2 separate regions of the Homo sapiens genome follow, and region 1 is linked to region 2. Evidence: fine-mapped expression QTL. A gene starts in region 2. The other region holds a variant in brackets. All regions are shown on one strand. Distances are between the middles of the regions. Region 1 overlaps CLASP1 (cytoplasmic linker associated protein 1). Region 2 holds the start of CLASP1 (cytoplasmic linker associated protein 1).

What was found.
Region 1: its variant is fine-mapped to the expression of CLASP1 in whole blood (TOPMed, PIP above 0.99).

What each region holds. Positions count from the first base shown.
Region 1 is chr2:121,421,636-121,424,135 of GRCh38, reverse strand. All of the region lies in intron 22 of CLASP1 (cytoplasmic linker associated protein 1), which reads left to right. Among named protein-coding and RNA genes, the nearest start is that of CLASP1-AS1, 110 kb to the left of the region's middle. The variant A/G (reference allele first, on the strand shown) is at 1,342.
Region 2 is chr2:121,647,797-121,650,828 of GRCh38, reverse strand. CLASP1 (cytoplasmic linker associated protein 1) reads left to right here and starts at 1,367. Exons shown (of 41, transcript NM_001395891.1): 1 at 1,367-1,457. NIFK-AS1 (NIFK antisense RNA 1) reads right to left here and starts at 1,175. Exons shown (of 4, transcript NR_037857.1): 1 at 448-1,175; 2 at 147-361. RefSeq lists enhancers at 857-1,126, 1,158-1,784, 1,785-2,413.

The DNA.
Region 1 (2,500 bases), 230 kb after region 2:
CCCAGATTTCTTGCTAGGGGAGGCTGCCCAGAGTAGATTCTGTTTTCATGAAGTACAAAATGGGATTGGTCCGGGTGGGGAGATGAGGGGAAAGGTTTCTAGAGGAGAGAGAAGCATCTGCAGAAGCAGTCAGGCAAGAGGCAGCCACATGTAATTCATTTGGCTGCTGTAAAGGAAGTCAGAGTGGGTGGGAGTTGGGGGCAGAGACTGGTAGAGTCCAGCTCATGAAAGTCTTTGAAGCCCACCTTAGCTACGAGAAGGCAGGAGAAGATATTTAAGAATGGATAAGATTTGATTTGAAATCCTATTTCCAAAGCAAGTAGAAAGTATTTCTTGGTTTTAGTAAATCTCTATGATGCCAACTTTTTATTGGCATTGCGTAGTGTGGTCTCTTAGCTGACAAGTTATTTGGGTGTTGATGTGGATACAATCATAGAAAAGGTCACAGCTGGAATATCTGAATTTTATGTCTGATGCTGTAACATATTTGTGTTTGGAAAATGCATTTGATTTTAAATCTAGGTGTTATGTTTTAGCTGTCTTTTTCCATAGTTAATTGTTTAAGTTTATAGGATGTCTGTTTGCAATCCATGTTAGTTTTATACATTTAAAGATTCTTTTCTGTTTTGAGATTTTTTTTCCTTTTATATTATTAAAGATGCCATTTTAATCTTCTTCTTGAAATTGGGAAATAACCCAACTTCATTTATCTAACATAATTCTAATGTGTTCCATGGTTTTAACTAGGAAGTTTGTGTTGTGTGTAGTTGAAAAGACAATATTTTATATGTTTTTAAAACAGTTATTATGGAGCATCAGTAGGAACTTAAGCCTGTTCCCTTCCAAAGAGTTATTTGAAATATTATTTGAAGAAAGTTATTTCCTTGATGCTAATTAAAGGGATCAGTTACGTGTAGAGCTTTGAGGTCATACATATAGTTTATATTAAAGAAGATATTTTCTTTAAATTTCCACACATTGCGAGAATATATGCATATAAAGAAATCTATATGAATAAAATGTATTTTCATTTTTTTCCTGTGGTATTGCTTAGAGATTGCATTTAATAGGGTGGCAGACATAATAGCATTATTCAGTAATAGATTATATATTACTATTATCATTTAGTATATACTGGATATATGCCTGTGTTTCTTAACATTTGACTCATTGTATAGCAGTTTTCAATATAATTGTTGAAAAAAAGAGGAGGAACATCTTTTAGGAATATTTTCTATAATTCCCAAACCAACAAATTCAACAGTTTTAATGATAGCTAAACTAGGTTTGGAATTTGCACTGAGAATTAATCGTAGTTATCTACAAATCGTGTTTGGTTCA[A/G]CTATGCCTCTTTTTGTTTGAAATGATACTTCTTAACAAAATTTTCTTTTTTCATTTGTTTTAAAACTGATGCCAAGGCTCTTCTTTGGCATTTAGATTTTCTTAAGCAGAACAGCCTGTAATTCCTATTAAATATTCAAGAAGCAAAATATATCCCTGATACTCTTTTTTCTTGGTGATTTGTTCCCTCATAAGCTATCTGACTAGGAAAATGTATTTTTAAGTTGTTTTATTTCTGTGTGTCTTAAAGATAATACTTTATAGATACAATAAAGTCACATAAATCACTAGTATCTATAGTGATTATATTTTGGAAGTTTGCCCTTGTTCCCTTCTCCCACTCCTCTATGGAAAGGCTATGAAAACACATTTGACATTTTTGCAGCTTTCATTCTGTGGATGTGTATTTTAAATGTTAAGGTTTTCTGGTTAAAATACTTTGAAATAATTAAACATTAATAATAGTTCATTTCAACTGTGAAATTAGACTACTGTCTAAGACCAAGACATGAAAATGTCTAGACCAGAGAGACATTTCATGTCTTTAACTTCTGGTTGTTTTTATTAATTCTCTTATATTCTGCTTTTATGAGTCCTGGTTGGACCCTTCCTTAAGATGTAAAAGTCAAGATTACCATTAAAACACTGAAGTAGGGTAGAGTGTCTATCAAGAAATGTAAACCAATCAAATGGGTATCTTACGGCTTCCCAGCATTTCATGTAAGCAGAAGACCCCAGAGGTACCTAGGAATACTGCTTTTTTAGGAAGTTCACAGTACAAGTATGTTTTCCTGGTCTCTCCCTCTTATGCCTTCTCTTCTGTAACATATTTTCACATAGAACATTTAGTTTGGCACTTAAAGAGACAAGACTATTTTGGTGGGATTTTCTTCTTTTAGTTTTGATCACCTAATTAATTCATTTATAAAAAGTCATTTATATACTTATTTTAGGCCGGGTGCAGTGGCTCACGCCTGTAATCCCAGCACTTCGGGAGGCCGAGGTGGATGAATCCCTTGAGGTCAGGAGTTGGAGACCAGCCTGACCACCATGGCAAAACCCCATCTCTATTAAAGATACAAAACTTAGCTGGATGTGGTGGTGCGTGCCTGTAATCCCAGCTACTTAGGAGGCTGAGGAAGGAGAAGCACTTAAACCT
Region 2 (3,032 bases):
AAGACCCTGAGGATCAGGGGGCATTATCTCATAGTTCTCCCGCACTTCTCTCCCATCCCAACACATACACTAGCAAGGAGCTCCGCACACAAGCTCCTCCAGTAAAAACAACGCACTGGGCAGTGCATCTCAACACATCAAATTACCGGCGTGCATAGGAGCCTGATGCGGCAAATCTGTGGGTCCTTCGGGATCCTTGAAGGCAGCCCTATAATTTGCATTTTTCTACGCTCCAAAACACTTTCCGGGCCAGATGCGGTGGCTCACTCCTGCTGTCCCAGCACTTTCGAAGACCCAAGACGGCGGATCACTTGAGGTCAGGAGTTTGAGACAAGGCTGGGAAACATGGTGAAACCCATCTCTACAAAAAAATACAAAAAGTAGTTGGGGGGGGGTGGTGCACGCCTGTAATTCCAGCTACTCGGGAGGCTAAGGCAGGAGGATCACCTGAGCCTGGGAAGTCGAGGCTGCAGTGAGCCGTGATCGCGCCACTGCACTCCATCCGGCCTGGGCGACGGCGGTGAGACCCTGTCTCAAAAAAATAAAAGCCACCACTTTCCCACTTATTATCCCAGGGAAACGCACGCGACGGAGGAGCGAAGGAGCGTTTATTTGTGGAGGCGCTCAAGTAAGAAACCCTGCTCGCTGGCCGACTCAAGGGTCTCCAAAGCCTTCTCTGGGCTGTCTCCCCTCCCCAAAAGGCAAAGAACCGTTAACAAGTTTACTTCCGGCACAAGCGTCCGCGCCTGCTCGGAAAAGGGAGCGTGGACACACAGCTCTGTTACGGGAAGTCGCAGGGCACAATTTCCTTCATTGCAGTCGCCCTCTGGGCGGACGCCCTAACCCAGAAGTGAAAGACCGTTTCCTTCGAGTATCAGACCCCCGACCAAAGGAAGTTCCACTTGGACGACTTTTACCCAGGGTTTCCCGATTCCTCTTTAGCTCTTCCTATCACGCTCCCTGCTTGCTGGTGCATTGTTGCTGTGGCCACTTAGTTCCGACCTTCCTTGTCTAACTCGAGTTTTGTCGCAACTTTCCAAGGGGCCTAACCACAACCTTTTCCGTAAAAAAAAACAAAAACAAAACCTTTACCCTACGGGTCCCCATCAGGGTCAACTAACGTTCTCCGTGAGGGGCAAAGCTCCCGGGGACTTTACGCCAGCGAAGCCTAACACGGCCAGGCCAGCGCCTGCGCGGGGCGTTACCATAGAGAGGCAGCCGCCTCTCTGGTCTCGGTTTACGCTCTCTATGGTGTACCCGGGTTGGTGGCGGTAAGAAGAAAAAGGGTGACCGCACTGCGCAGGCGCCCTCGGCGTCTCTCTCGCTCTCTCGGTCTTTTTTTTTTTTTTCTTTTTTTTTTTTTTTAATCCCCGCACCAAGCGCTTAACCTCATTGGGGTGGAGGAGAAGGCGGCGGCTCTCTGGTCCGCAGCGGCAACAGTAACGAAAAACAGGGCTGTAAGTACCCGGTCAGGGGGCGGAGGGTCAGACCCGAGCCCTCTCGCGGCCCTGGCCCCTCCCGCGCAGTGGCGGGCGCCGGGTCTGGGTGGGGGCGATGTCCAGCGCTGTCATCGGCTCTTGGGTGCACTTTGGGGGGATGGGGCGGCCCTGAGGTGGGAGCCTGGCGAGGAGCGGGATGCGAGGGTTGTTTATCCAACCAGTAGGTCGCTGAGCCCAGGCTGCTTTGCAGAGGGAGGGGATCGGCCCTGGGGTCAGTCGGGCTTTGTGTGCCCCTCTCTGTTTCCCTTTTCCAGACCCCACCCGGGCCCCCTTCCTAACCCGAGTCTCCCCTGCCGGGTGGGAGAAGCCAGCGAGCCCGGGGCGCGTTTGAAAGGAAGGGAGGGGGCGAGGGAGAGAAACCCACAACAACTAGTCATTGGCGAGTGATGGGTGTGAAGAAAGATCCAGAGAGAAGGGGTGCCGGGAGGCGGGCGGCCCGGGCTCCCGTCCTGGGCTCCCAACCGGGCCAGACAAAAGCTGCGCGAGCGGCGCCGAGCGGAGCGGCCGGCTTGATGGGATGCACAAGGTCCCCTTGGTTCCCGGGGCCTTCGAAGAGCTTCTTTCTGAAGCTGGGAAAGCGAACAAGTGCTGAGTTAAGCCTGTGCAGACTTCTCAACTTGCCTTTGTTGTTCTTTGGTATTGGCAGAGACGCTCTGACGAAGATGAGTGTGTGATCTTGCACGTTAGCCTGGCTAGGTACAATGGAGCTAATCGAATTTTGCTTTCCGTTTTCCGAGCTGCTGGGATGAGTATGGGGCTTTCCAGAGTTTAAATTATTACATAATATTTTTAAAATAGTTGTTTGCTTCTAAAATTAAAAAAAATTAATGTGGAGTCTGAAAGCACGCTGTGGTGAGTTTGCAGCTGAGTTTGCAGCTGGGTGAGTTTCTGTGTAGTGGGGTGCGTTCATTAAATACTGACCATTCGTAGAACCTGTGAGCTCTTTAAACATGATACTTTCATTTGTAGATGTGGCAATGAGAGCTTCAGATTCTCTAGTCCTTTGGGAGACCGTGATGCAGAAGAGTCAGAAGCGAGAAATAGTTTCATGCCGCCATGTACCTTGGACCCTATTTGGGTGCCACAGTCCGTTTTCAATTCTGGCATTAGAAATTGTTTTTATTACTACGATTATTTACGACGGTAACTGACCTCTCGATATGAGGGATCCTGGATATTGGCTCCGTTTGCTCATCAAGGGATTGGGAGAATAGCAACATTGATGTTGCGACCATATAGATAAAAAGTAGCACAGTGCCTCAGAGTATTGAATATTATTTATTTTTTACATTTGTTAAGAAATTTAAATTTTGATGATCTGGTTATCTTGTTAAATTGTGTAATACACCTTTTTAGCAGTTGTTACTGAAATCTCAGTTTCTATAATTCATTGTTTATTATGGGCTACCTTGTAACACCATTTTAGACTTCTAAAGTTTTAGTTTTTATGAAGGAGTTTTCAGCCATAGCTTTTAATTCTCCCAGGTAAGGTTAACCAAAGTCAGGACTCCTTAGAGGAGACTTTGTTGGTGG